Homo sapiens: one gene and its partner. The protein of the gene in region 1 interacts with the protein of each later gene in a biochemical or structural test. Each region holds a gene or a part of one and is shown in the gene's direction. Other genes may lie near its edges.

What was found.
Region 2: the proteins of DZIP3 (region 1) and GRIP1 form a complex in vitro, tested with the Homo sapiens proteins (one study listed by BioGRID).

Annotation. Positions count from the first base shown.
Region 1 is NC_000003.12:108,584,894-108,592,736, forward strand, and holds the start of DZIP3 (E3 ubiquitin-protein ligase DZIP3), read left to right. Parts: upstream 1-4,828; 5' UTR 4,829-4,946; exon of another isoform or gene 4,947-5,203; intron 5,204-7,843. Other genes in the region: protein CIP2A, read right to left, coding at 172-319, 4,381-4,482. UniProt on the Homo sapiens protein: E3 Ubiquitin ligase proteins mediate ubiquitination and subsequent proteasomal degradation of target proteins.
Region 2 is NC_000012.12:66,389,060-66,396,083, reverse strand, and holds part of GRIP1 (glutamate receptor-interacting protein 1), read left to right. Parts: intron 1-1,731; coding exon 1,732-1,876; intron 1,877-3,267; coding exon 3,268-3,407; intron 3,408-3,581; coding exon 3,582-3,776; intron 3,777-7,024. UniProt on the Homo sapiens protein: May play a role as a localized scaffold for the assembly of a multiprotein signaling complex and as mediator of the trafficking of its binding partners at specific subcellular location in neurons.

The DNA of each region.
Region 1 (7,843 bases):
CTTTGATCGGTAGCTATGACTTCCTCAGTGTCAAAAGATTCACAATGCACACTAGACTGAGAAGTCTTTGAAGGTGAATCATTCTTTAAGAGATTCTATAACTAAGCCTGCACTTTAAAATATTGTTCATACATCTTCCAAAAACTAAAAAGGAGAAATTAAATGCATTACCTAGTTGAGACAGCAAACCGATAATACTTAAGATCAGTGAAGCACTTATGTTGGGGTCTTCAAGTAGCTCTACAAGGCAACTCAAGCATTCACTTGTTAATATCTGATTTGATGTAAATAGTCGTGTGAGTTTCTGTCCAGAAATTACCTATAAAATAGTAATCAAAATGTGTTGGTTAAGCGATGGCAATTTTCATCTCTTCTCCATTTCAAATAAAAAACTCAGTTCCCTCAAAGTGCCACTGCTACCTTCCCAATTTAAAAAATTCACACATGCTGTGAAAAATTCACCCCTGCCTAGAGTACCCATCAATTACCTAATCCCTCCCTCCCTAGCTAAAGTAATCATTTGGATCTCAGTTTAAAATAATTTCCACCAGGAAGCTTTTCTTAGTTTCTTATACCATCTCAGTTCGGTCGGCCTATTATGCTATCCTATAGTACATTATATTTCTATTTCCTAAGTTAGCAAACTTTTGAGTTCCTAGCAATATTTCTCCTTCACACTACATTGAACATGCGATGAAGGCATAGCCTACAAATCTGCACTCTAGTACCAATATATTTACTATGCAAATAAATTCTAATACATTCTACTTACTTTGAGGGAGGAGAATGAAAAATGAAGCCCAGAGGGTAGTTATGGGATTATTCCTTCTGCTTCTTCCCAAAGACAATAGGTGAGCTCAGAAGTTAAGGGATTAAAGAAGGAAGTGAAAAGTGAATCTTTTTTTAAGTAGCCAGGCAAGGCATTGAAAAATTTTATTTCTGATTATTCCATTGTTTTTTTTACTTTCTTGTAATCTATAAGCCACATACACGCATGCACAGACACATACATACACACACACACACACAGAGTGAAAGAGAGAAGAGAGGAGGTAAAGCTGGAACTAAAGGCCAAAAGCAGTTGTCTCAAAGCATGAATTTTCAACATACTTTATGGATGTATTTATTACAAAGCATATCTTTTCTACAAAGATGGCAAAACCATTAGTTACCTTAGAATAAGACTAACTCTGTCCTGAATACTTATTTTAATAAGATCAAGCCTAAGCAGGCTGCTTTAGCATCCCTCTAATCTTTCCTTTCTGTATCCTCCCTTTATTCTCTCACCCACATCAGTTTTTCTTCTAAGGCTTTGCTGATAAGAGTTTCACATTATCTGTTCCCAAGGAGTGTTTTAACATTACTAAAGTAAAAGTCTATACAAGAAAAAATAAGTCCAAATATGAAAGTGCAGATGCCAGTAACAGATATTCTGGGGTAGGAAATACTGTGGGCATTACCCTGTTGCTTATTTATAAATCTAGCTCTCCAGAATAAGACACTTGCTGTTTTAAAAATGATTCTCTATAGGATTGGTCCTGTATCTCATTAACATAAATTGTCTAACATGTAATAATTATATGCACTAGGTAAAATAAAAATTGCTTTACAAGTTTTCCCTTTACTTATACTGAATCTCTTAAAACAAAGATAATTTATTTTAATAATAACTAATACTTATACAGCACTTACTCTGGCCTAGGCATCGATCTAGGCACTTTACATATGTGAACTCTTTTCATCTTCATAATAACTCTATAAGGTAGGTACCACTATTTTGTTTTGCAGATGAGTAAACTGAGGTACACACTGATAGTAAAGAAGCACAACTGGAATTCATATCTAGGCAGCTTGGTTCCTGAATTCATGCTTTTAATCACTACACAAAATTAGTGTTATGAAACATCATCATTAAAAATCAGATTAGCTCAGCTTTGCCAGTCATCAAACATTCAAAGCCTACACTCTGCATGGGGCTATAAAAGTGTGGGAGAAGTACAGAAGAATGAATAATCTCCTTTCACATGATACCCATCTCTCTTTGCATACTCAGATCTCGCTCTCATGAAGTCTGTACAAAGACATTCACCATTAAAAATACAAATACTGTCAACCAAAATGGTTAAAATTAAGAAATATGAAAACATCAAGGGTTGGTGTGGATAAGTGATGGTAAATTTCACATATTGCTAGTGGGAAGATAAAATGGCATATTTCAGAAAATTGTTTGGCAGTTTCAACTAAAACGGAACATATAGGCATATGTTCCAATGCTCTAACAATTCTACTCCTAAGTATATAAATGTGTGCATATATCCACAAAAAATGTATGTCTACAACAGCTTTATTCTTAATTCCACCCAGAAATGTAAACAACCCAAATGCCTATCAACAGGAAAGTGTATGTAAACTGTGGTACACTTATACAATAGAATTCTACACATCAATAATAAAAAAAATGAAGTAGCGGTACATGTGCAACATGAATTTCACAGATTTTATTGAGTGGAAAAGGCCAGACACAAGAGTACATATTGTATGAGTCTACTTACCCAAACCTTATGTGAAGAGGCAATGAAGAAACCCTATGGGGCTAGAAATGTTCTGTATCATGATACAGGTGGTAGCTACTCTACCTATATGTTAGCTACCAATATGGTAGCTATGGTACCTATATATTAAAAACTATCAAACTCTTCACTTAAGATTAATGCACTTTATGCTCTGTATGTATTTTATCTCTTAATTACAAAAAGTCCTTTTTAGTAGTAACCTGAAGCCAGTGCTCTTCATACCTTTGCAACAACGGTAGAAGAGTTTTATGTAAACCCCTTGAAAGTTTAGGAATACAGTAAAGACCCCATCCCATATTTTGTTTAAGTCTCTCTTTTTTTTTGTTTTGTTTTTGAGACGGAGTCTCACTCTGTCACCCATGTTGGAGTGCAGTGGAGCGATCTCTACTTATGCAACCTCAGCCTCCCGAGTTCAAGCGATTCTCCAGCCTCAGCCTCCCGAGTAGCTGGGACAACAGAGAGACGCCACGCCCAGGTAATTTTTGTATTTTTAGTAGAGACGGGGTTTCGCATGTTGGTCAGGCTGGTCTCAAACTCCCGACCTCAGGTGATCCGCTCGCCTCGGCCTCCCAAAGTGCTGGGATTACAGGTGTAAGCCCCTGTGCCTTAAATCTCTTTCAGTGCACAACCTTCCTGTTTATTCAAAGAAAGGTAATGCTTCAGAATAGCATACAAAATGCTTAACTCCCGATTTTTAAATTAAACGGACTGCCCTGCTTATTCTGCGGCTTCTGGAGCCTATGCTAATTCAGAAGCAAAGCCTTAAGCATTTAACAGCTAACACCTTAATTATTAGGTTTGCAGGCACTTCTTAAAATAAAGAATGAAAAAGAGAAAACAAATGTACTTAGGAGATGGGCACTTGAAGTAGGGAAAAGAGGAGCACCAGTGAAGCTCAAGATAAGACAGACACATTTAATACAACAGCAGCTTCACTAACAGCTGCTGTTGCTCTACTACTGGAAATCATTTTTTTCCTGTAATATTTTACAAATTTTTGGCACATTAGTCTTTTATCATAGGGTTAATATAATACAATATATTTTAAAATTATGTTCAATTCTACCTTAACAGAGGAAAGCTGTGACACAGAGAGTTAAAATAAGCCTTAATTGAGCTTTAAAAAAATTAAACTGAGGTCAATGTTAGTTTGAATTCCGTAAATGCAAAACAAATGAAAGCAGAAGATTAAGATCCTAAAACAAACGGAATCGTCTGGACACATATCACTAGAATAGAAAAAAAGGCAATTCAGCATTCTAAGATTAAAAAACTGTAAGCAATGTATTTTGGTAAAGAAAAAGGATTACGCTTACTAGGAAGGGGAAGTGCTTCTTAATGTTGAAATAATGTTTTTCAAGTTTGAGTTCAACCCGAGTTCAAGTAAGAGCAGTAAGCAACAAATTCAATTATAGATTACCGAAGGGCAAAACCAAGTTTTAATCATGACTTTCCGTCACTGAGAATAGTTGTGTATTGAGGGCTTGGTTTCGTAGAAAAACCAAAACTAGAAGCAAAGGAAAAGATAAAGTTCCGAGCTTTTTCCGTTACCTACTCGAAACAACCTGAACTTCCCAACCTTTTGCCCCACTCCCGCTTTTCCTAGAGCCTTCAGTGAGCGCTCTTGCCTCTCGCTGCGGCCAGCGGAACCCCGACACTCACTAGCCTTTACCAGTACGAAAAGACAACAGAGGGATCGAAGGACTGTCCTTTCTTTCCCAGGCTGGGGCCGCCACTCCTCGGCCTCACTGTGAAATAAGAATTGCTAGGGGAAGCCCCATCTGTCCTCTACCCCAGAGCCTCTCACCTCCAAGTGCCGCAAAAGCTGAGTGGCGTTCGCCTCTGACTTCACGGCTTTGTACTGACTGACAGTCAGGAGCAAGGACTTCAAGCAGGCAGTGGAGTCCATTGCACCGGCCGCGGCCCGGCTTAGGGACCACCACCGCCCAGCGTGCGCCGGCCTTTAGCTTTCGCCGCGCTTTTTTTGATTTTCGGCCCCACCCCCTCGCTCTCAGAAGCTTCCGGATCCGGTCGGGCTCCGGAAGTCCCTAGGCACCCTAGGGGACCGTTCTCGGTGACGGCCGGGGTGGGCCAGGGGTCGAGGTGATTTGTGGGTCCAGGACGGGGGTTGGGAGCTGCCCCCGCTAACCCACCCTCGTCTGAGAGGCCGCGAGGTTTCGGCCTGAGATCCCGTGAAGGCGAGAAATCTCGCGATTTCTCGGGAGAGGAATCGGTTAGGAGAAGGGGGATTCCTCACTCAGCTGTGCGCTCTGATTTCGTGCGCTTCCTCGTCCTTCATGTTGGATGGCCAGTTTTTCGTTTGTGCGTCATCCTCTACCTGAGAAATGGTCGCTTGCCCCTAGTCTAGACACGGTGAGGAGCTCTGAGGAGAAGAATCTTGGGCCCTAGATTTTGAGGCGGCCTGGGAGGGGCCTCGTTTTTAAATCTCTCCTACACCCGCCCCTTCTGCCCGGGGATGGTAGTTTCTCAGAGTCAACCTATTGGCATTATGTGGCAAATTAGTCATGCCCTGACCAAAGTATTTGTCACATTTATTCGAGAAGACTACCTCCTGCTGACCCTGGGCCAGGTATTGCTCCGGAGGGTGTTACTCGTTAGCGTCAGTTTTTGTAAGTGAAGGTGTCTGTTTCTCTCTGGCATGATTGATTGTTTTATAATTCTCGATGTCTACGAAAATGGCACTATTATTTGCGTTTTTTAAATCGGAGATAGCTTAATATTATTGCATGTGTATGTAATGAAGCGAGTCAGTTACTGGTTTTGGAGCTTTTTGCTTAATATTTCCTAACGTCGAATAAAGCTTTAAAAACCAGGATGTAGAAATTGTAAGAATAGGGTACATTTCCATTTAATTAAATCGTTTATCAGAAATCATGTTTTTTCACTTCAAAAGAATTTTTTTGAATTACTAGATTTTTGAAGACAGGTTTGGTGTTTTGGTTTTGTTTTTTATAAAAGTTTAAATCTGAAAGATAAAAATGATTTAACCAGTTGGGACATTCATGTAAAAATCTTTGGGTAGCTTGTGTGTTCATTTATGCTTTCATTCATTCCGTAAACAATTATAGAGCGTGTAACATGGGTTAGAAACTGCCAGTCAGGGAACAGAGATGAAGTAGTATCCCCTGCTGCGAGGGAACTGTCTAGTAAGGGAAACATACAAAATAGTACTTTTGAAATTCACCACATAAATGAGAGGCACCATGCAGTAACATGCAGCAGTGGTAAAGAGTAGAGAGCCAGGTTGCTTACAGATTCTAGCTCCACCTTTGACGATGTGACTCTAGGCAAGTTCTCACTGCTGCAGAATCTTCATTAGGTAAAATCTGGCCAAGGGAGATACCTGGTTCATAGGACTGTTCATTCAATAAGTAGTTCATTGAGAATCTACAATGTGCTAAGCACTTTTCTAGACACAATAGACTCAGTGAAAAAAACAAAAATACTACTGGCATGCAACTTACATTTTGGTAGGGAACCAAATAATAAACACAATAAATAAGTAAGGAAAATGATATAAAGAGAAAAATAGACGTTATTACTCTAGAATAATGTTGGTAATTGATAAGGGAAATGGGAAGGTGACCTCATTAAGAAAGCAACATTTGGGGAAATGCTTCAAGGAGTTGAGAAAGGGAGCCATATTCTATGGGAAAAGGTTTTTAGATAGAGGAAATGGCAAAGAAAGACCCTAAAGTGGGATACTGTATGCCAGAAACAAGGATGCCATGTGGCTAGTGTAGAAAGAACGAGGAGGAGAGGAGTAGAGATGAGGTCCTATACGGTCTTGGAGATGGTTAAAAAATGAATTAATGTAAAGTGTCAGCTGTCATCTGGCATAATTAAGTTCTCAGTGTTACAGTCAGTGCCTCATTGGCAAATGAAGTGATCAGAGTTTGATAGTGTTGGACTTTTCATCTGTGATGATGTGTCAGCATCGTCCCCATTCAGAGGCCCAGGGTAATGCGCAAAGCTGCGTGCTATCAGTGCCATCTTTGTTGGATTTTGACTTAAGCAGTCATACAAATTTTGTATTCTCTTCTGTAATTAATATCAAATGTCTTTCTCAAAAAATCTTCACCAAAATTGATGTTGTAAGTTTAGTAAGAGGGATCGTTTCTAGCTGTGATAAGTCTTGACATTTTTAATCAGAGATACTTGCATATCCTAATTTGAGAAACACCAATCCATACTTTTAGGCCTCAAAAAGGGAAGAAAAGGAGCAGGAGGCCAGGAGCAGTGGCTCACGCTTTTAATTTCCAGTTTTTTGGGAGACTAAGGCAGGAGGACCTTGAACCCAGGAGTTGGAGCCAGCCTAGGCAACATAGTGAAACGCCATCTCTACAAAAAATGAAAAAATTAGCCGGGCATGGGTGTGCTCACTTGTAGTCCTAGCTACTCTGGAGGCTGAGTTGGGGGGATCACTTGAGGCTGCAGTGAGTGTGATTGTGCCACTGCACTGTAGCCTGGGTGGCAGAGTGAGACCCTGTCAAAAAAAAAAAAAAAAAAAGAGATGAGTCTGGGTCCCAATGACCAAAGGCCTTATTAGCCTTAAACTTGGACTCCATCTTGAAGTCCGTGGCAATCTCTGGTTTTAAACTGGCACCTGGTCTAGTCAGGTTTGTTTTTAGATTGATTACTCTGGTAGCTGAATGAACTATGATTTTGGGGAGGATAAGACTGGAAAGAGGGACACTAATTTTCTGGAACCTTCTAAAGGATAACCAGGATAATTGAGGTGGAGATACAAAATAGGTGACAAATTCGAGAAGTATATATGAAGTAAAATAGGTAGGATTTGGTGACTGATAGTGGATGTGAGGCATGAAGAGAGGGATGAGTCTAGCAGATACTAAGTTTTTAGGTTGGATGAATGAGAAGATACAGATACTGCTGAGTTAGTTAATAGAAAGTATTAAGGGTGTGCCAGGCGTAGTGGCTCATGCCTTTTATTCCAGCACTTTGGGAGGCTGAGGCAGGAGGATCTCTTGAACCCAGGAGTTCAAGACCAGCTTGGGCAATATGGTGAAACCCCACCTCTACTAAAAATACAGAAAATTAGATGGGTGTGGGTGGTGCATGCCTGTAGTCCCAGCTACTCAGGAGGCTGTCATGGGAGGAACACCTGAACCTGGGAAGTCAAGGCTGCAGTAAGCCATGTTTGCCCCACTGCACTCCAGCCTGGGCAATGTGGGCAACAGGAGGGAGACCCTGTCTCAAAAAAAAAAAAAAAAAAAAGTATTCAGGTT
Region 2 (7,024 bases), on another chromosome or scaffold:
GAATTTCATCCAGGATATTGTTGATGATGAGGGCTGCAAAGTACATGTAATCTATCCAATAGTACTCTGTTCATTTAGGTCAAAGCCAGCTCTGAAAGGTGACAAAATATCGTACTGTAGGAAAATTTAGACTTTTGACCTCTGCTGATTATTTGGTTACCCTCTATCTTGATGTTTCTCTCTGGAGCCCTTAGCAGATCATCACCAGCCTATTGGCCACAACTTCAGCATCAGCCCAGAAGAAACTTGTGAACCAGCAAACAGAGCTGTTTTAGGCTTGATATGGGAGCTTCTCAGCTGCTAATGTAAATTTGAGCCCAATGTTGAAGATTTTGTGCCCTAAAATGTTGACTTAAGCATTGCAGTGTGTGGTGGATGGTCTTTAGTTCTGAATGTGTGGAGTAAATACGTTGAGTAGAGCACTCAGAAAGTGGAGGTAATGGCTGCATTCAAAACTCCCAATCTATGGCCAGAAGTGAAGTAAGTGCTGGCGAGAGAGGACACATTGCTTCCCAAATGACTTGATAGACCTTTCATTTTATATTCATCATAATTCTTCACTGCAAACACAAATAATTGAATTGTTAACTCAAGCTTTGGTTTTCCTCCTTATTTTAGGATTTCATATCGTAAACGAACAGCTGCTCACTGCAAAAATGTGGCCATGTTAATGCTTCACTAGGATGTAGTCTGACTGTAAAAGCTGACTATTTTGCTAAAGTAGCCACTGAACCATTTCATTTTATCCTTAGTTGCAGAAATGAAACAGTTCCTTAACCATTCACAGCTCCCAGGCCCAAGGAATAAAACAAGAAGTGCCCAAGAACTTTAAGCATGTCAGAAGCAAATAAAACCTTTGAATTCTGAGACTTCTTATTTGCAACTCTGACACCATCACAATACCCATCACGTTGAAGGCGGCCCATGATATCTTTCTGGCCAGTGCTTTAGGCAGAGCACATTCACAAGTGTCTTCAACTATAATAATGTTGAATAGCCAAAATTAGTTTATGACAGTGTGGCAGGCTGGTCTATGCTGTTGAAACATAGCTTACAACAGCTGTTACTCCATTGAAAGAGGAGAGATGATCATTCAAACCTCCACTTTAATATCCGTAATTCACTGATAGGACTCACATTAGAAGACAGTCAGTGGAATGATATCTAAGAGATTCTAGATTTCTTGCTGTTGTCTTCAAGTTTACTTATCTAAGTTCCACTTAACCATATATATGTTATTTGTTCCAACCCTTCGCAAAATCCACTTTTCTATATCAAAAGTTAGCATGCATGTAAAGCTTAAAACGGAAACAGCGTGACCCAATGTCTGTCTTCTTTGTTACTGAGTGACTCTCTCCTCTCATATTATAATGCCTCCTCAGCCATATGTTTATTTCACAGATATTTACTGCATACTTACTAAATGCTAGGTAAGCACTGTCCTAGACATGGACACAGTTGAAAGGTCCTGCAGCCCCAGCTGGGCGGATCTCACACATTTAAAACATAAGTCATTAGGCAGTGTTCCTCTCCCCTGGCACTGACAATGATTATATCCCTGTATTTGAATGTAAGATCCTACTAAGGAAATGCTACTTCCCAAAATAATTATTTTCTGTGACATGATACTTTGACGAGGATGTTTTGAATTCTTTTATGTATGAATCTATGCATCTTACTCTTTTGCTTTTTCCAAAGAAATCAATTATGATTCCTTGGCATTTATTACAGATGAGCAAGAAAGTTCCGGAGCAATTATTTACACCGTGGAGCTTAAACGCTACGGGGGGCCCCTTGGCATCACAATTTCAGGAACTGAAGAGCCGTTTGATCCTATAATCATTTCAAGCCTCACTAAAGGGGGATTAGCTGAAAGGTAAAATTTGAAGTAACTGTTATAATTACCTGTGTCTGAGACGGGCTTCCTTCCTCACAACCACATAAAAACATGCTCCTCTCTCTGTGGTTATCTGTTGGCTTTTAAAAATCTGCACAAAGGATTGATCTTAGAGCCTGAGAACTCTCAGGCAGAGTTCCGACTTGACTCTGAGGGGCATCTTACAGGCAGTAAAAGACGTCTTGGGCTTAGCATTGATACTACTCTCTGAAATGTATAAGCTGACCACAATTGACTGAAGGCGGATTTGTATTGTGTCCATTTTGAGAGGAGGAAACTAAAGTTCAGGGAGGTTGAACAGCTTGTCCAATTTCATTCAGCAAACACTTGCTGAGCCTCTGTTACCTGACAGGTGCCACACTTAGCTGCTGTGTTTTCAGAAAAGGATGATACAGACATCATCTTCAAGGATTATGGGAAACAAAGTGTATAACCCATTTTAATAATGTCTTAAAAGCTGGAATGTCCATTTTTTCCTTTGGCAATGATGTACACACACACCCACTCCCCACCCTCCGCTAAACTGCATTTCTTTCTGAGATGTGTTGTTGGACATATAACAAACCCTATAAGCAAATCTGCCCTCCAGTAACCTAGCTCAGGAATACACAAATGCATTGTTCCTGCTAACAGTTGAAAACAGTGGCTAGCAAAATAGAGACACAGCATTGCAAAATGTTGGAGCTGCAGTGTACCTTAGAAATTAGCTCATACAGGCCAGGTGCGGTGGCTCACACCTGTAATCCCAGAACTTTGGGAGGCCGAGGTAGATGGATCACGAGGTCAGTTCAAGACCAGCCTGGCCAATGGGGAAACCTCATCTCTACTAAAAATAGAAAAATTAGCTGGGGATGGTGGTGCTTGCCTGTAATCCCAGCTACTTGGGAGGCTGAGGCTGGAGAATTGCTTGAACCCGGGATGCGGAGGTTGCAGTGAGCCAAGATCGTGCCACTGGACTCCAGCCTGGGTGACACAGTGAGGCTCTGTCTCAAAAAAAAAAAAAAAAAAAAAAAAAAATCTGTAGAAAGAAAGGATGCTCCATGCTATCCACTACATTTGTCATTCAACATTGTTCATTTTCTTGGGATTTTTAGGGTGCTTAACCAATGACTCAGCTTTCTTGGAATTAAAAAACACAGTTCATTTTAATAACTAATTAAAACAATTTTTAAAATTTTATTGGAAACTAAAAAGTAATCCACAACAGATGCAGTTATCTTATAACATTGCCCAGGAGAAAGCAAGAAGGGACTTCTGGAGATCCTTACCAAGTCTTTATTATGATGAATGTATAAGGTATGTCAGGGAATTTATATTCAGTACCATACAGGGATTATTTCTACCTCTCCTATTACTATTTGGCTTTTCAGAACTGGCGCAATCCACATAGGAGACCGAATCCTAGCCATCAATAGCAGCAGCTTGAAAGGGAAGCCTCTGAGTGAAGCCATCCATTTGTTACAGATGGCAGGAGAGACTGTCACCTTGAAAATTAAGAAACAGACAGATGGTGAGTAGTGAATTGAAAGCCACAATTAAGGATTTCCAGTGCATTTTCTTCCTTGAAAGAATGTGCTAGTGTCTGTGTGTAATTCTAGGGAAACAAATCTCTAGCCACGGAGTATCTTGGTATATTTTTATTTAAATTTACTCTGATACTTAAACTCCTTTCCTGTCTATAAAGCCCAGTCAGCATCGAGCCCCAAGAAGTTCCCTATTTCTAGCCATTTGAGTGACCTGGGGGATGTGGAGGAGGACTCCTCACCAGCACAGAAGCCAGGCAAGCTCTCCGACATGTACCCCTCCACGGTGCCCAGTGTGGACAGTGCTGTGGATTCATGGGATGGGTCTGCAATAGACACCAGCTATGGAACTCAAGGTATGTCTTTACTTTGTCCCCCAGAGGACTTGTCATTGTTGAAGCCCATGCTTCTCCAAGATTCATCCTCTGCTCCATGAGGAGAATATCTTTCTTTAACTTGTGTCTGCTTTGGTGCAGCCATAATCATATTGAACACATTGAATACTTACACTCTGCTGGCCATGCATTTTCTTCTAGTGCTTATAAGGCATGAACCTTTACCAAACACTAACAGGCCTCCATTAGGTCTACTGATGGCCAAGTATCCCATCCAGGGCTTGTCCTTCAAGCTTAGATTAATGTGAGGCAAACCATACAATAAAGTGGCTCGTTCAATACAGGCCCCATTGCCTTATTTTTCAGCAAGCTTTCCACAAAGATGGATTGGGGAGTTTGGAAGAGGTGCATAAGAGATTAGCCAATGATTTGTGACTCTATTTATTCCTGCACACTCCTGACTTTTTTTTTTCTTTTAGAGACTGGGTCTCACTCTGTCACCCCAGCTAGAATACCCTGGCACCATCATAGTTCATTATAGTCTCAAACTCCTGGACTCAAGGGATCTTGCTGCCTCAGTCTCCTCAGTAGCTGAGACTATGTGCACACACCACCACACCCAGCTGATTTTTAAATTTTTGTAGATACGGGGTCTTGTCATGTTCTCCAGGCTGGTATCAAACTTCTGGCCTCCAGCAATCCTCCCATCTTGGCCTCCCAAAGTGCTAGGATAATAGGCATGAGCCACCATGCCCTTTCCCTGAATGTTTATAATTAGAGCACTATAATCACAATATAGGAAAGTATAGAGTAGATTTTTCTTCATAGGTGTCATCGTCATGTGAAGAAATACTATCTACATTAAAAAGCCTCACTCATGGAATATAAACACATAAAAGGTGTCAGACTGAATACAGAGCATAAACTAATAGCTTCTTTTAAAAAATATTTTCTTCCCAGTGATCCGTAGCATCAACAAGAGAAGTATGTCAAAACTTCTTGGTATTTCTCCTCATCTGAGCCTTACCTTCTCTCATGTTCTATGTAAATTCCAGCCTCTGAATCCCTTGTTTGCTCTGGGTTTCAGTCAGTCAAATAATAAAACACATAAACAGTTTAGAGAACACATTGGTGTGAGGGCTGCTTTGTCACTGAGTTAACTGTACTTTTTAGGAGTGTCTGTATCCAGTTTGCTCTCTCCTGGTTTTCCTAGTTTCCTTCTCTCAGCCTGCCTATGTTGTGTCACTCTCTGTTAAGTCCTCTGGTGAACAAAAAACAAAAATGGAAGGGAGAAAAAACTGGAAAAAAAAATGAAAGGAGATGATATTTCAAAGTTGTCAAGTTGTTACTTTCATTAGAGATGATACTGGAGTTAGGTGGGGAAAATACTTTGAACACCTAAGTAGAATTGGGGCTTTATCTGGCAATTAATTTTTCCAAGTCATAATACCTTGTGACAAGTTCACCTATGCCACCAAATAACAGACCTTCTGATTGCCTGAGAATTGATGGGCCACCAGAAGACACTGAGTAAAGGACAGAAGTCACATTCTATCAGAGTAGACTCAGGTTTATTTATCAATTTATTGTGTATTGGTTATTTATTTGTGTATTTTTTGTGTATTGCTTATTAATGTAGAGATATTTTTGTTACCAGAGATTTTTGTGAGGGTGCTATTGATATTAATTAGTTCTTCCCTGTAAGGTGATCTGTAAGACCTTAGCTACTCCATCCCTTGAAACCACAGACACAGGACCATGAGAAGCAAACTGAATATAGGACCTGCCCCTCACTAGTAAAAGATGAAAAACCATTTACTATTTGTGAAGCATTTTGAAATTTTGAATCATAGTCATAATATTACATTTTGCATTTATAATTTAGACATTTTTATGAGGTTGAAGGGAACTGAGGGATAAGTAGAGACAATGGCAATCAGGATAGAATCGAAGTACTCCAAGGTAATGAAAAAATAGTAATAACCCTTTATATATATAGAACACTCTAGAGTTTACAAAGCACTTTCACATAACTAATCCCCATTAATTCTTGTGACGAACATGGGAGCTGAAGGCAGGATTTCAGGTTTGGAAAGGGTTTAGGAGTCAGCTAGTCTGATGTCCAGTGCAGCCCTTGGTGCCAGGTCCTGCCTCACTGCACGCCAAGACACGCTGCATGGACTTGAATGCCCAAGGTGACAGGTTGTTCCTTGTGCTGAGGCAGCCCCCCATCTCCACGTAGCTCTGATGACTCTAAAGCTCTCACTTGTATTGAGCTGCAGTATGCCTAATAGTCCCGGCTATACCCTCAAGGTCATTCTGCACTAGACTAAAGCCTCTTCTCCTGACAGCCCCTTAGATACTCGAAGACAGCTATTGGGTCTCTGTTGAGGCTTTCCTTCTCCAAGCAAAATAGCCCCAGTTCCTTTAACTGTGTCTTCTATAATTTACTGACGAGTATCTGTATCGTCCTGTGGACCTCCCTTACGAATGTGCTTCAGTTTACCTGTGTACCCGTTAAAGTGTAACATTCAGAAAGGAAAATCACACAACAGCCCGACAGCCCGGAGCAAAGCAAGCTGGTCACTGGCATCATTGAAGACAGGAGAACTGATCAATGACACCTACCTCAACATAAGAATTTTAGTGGTCATGGCACATCTGTCACTCATTTTGCGCTTACAGTTTACCGAGATCTCAAAGTCTTGTGAATGTGTTTTTTTTTCTTTACCCGTGATATTCAGTTAAACTGCATCTCTCCAGATTGTGCTTGTGAGGTTGACTTTTTAAAAGCAAGGCACAGCTGGGTGCAGTGGCTCAGGCCTATATTCCCAGCACTTTGGGAGGCTGAGGTGGGCAAATCACCTGAGGTCAGGAGTTCAAGACCAGCCTGAGCAACGTGGCGAAACCCCATCTCTACTAAAAATACAAAAACTAGCCAGGCGTGGTGGCACACACCTGTAATCCCAGCTACTCGGGAGGCTGAGGCAGGAGAATCGCTTGAACCAGGAGGCGGAGATTGCAGTGAGCCAAGATCATGCCACTGCACTCCAGCCTGGGCAATAGAACAAGACTACGTCTCAAAAAAAATTAAAACAAAAATAAAAGCAAGGCATAGAACCACACTTTTATTTTTCCTATTCAATATTATGTTGTGAGATACAGCTTATCTCTCCAACCTGTCCCTCCAGCCTCTCAGCAGGCTCTCTGCCTTGTTCCAGGAAGCCCCTGCACATTCTCTCTGTTCCCTTTAAGGCTGTAATAGTTGC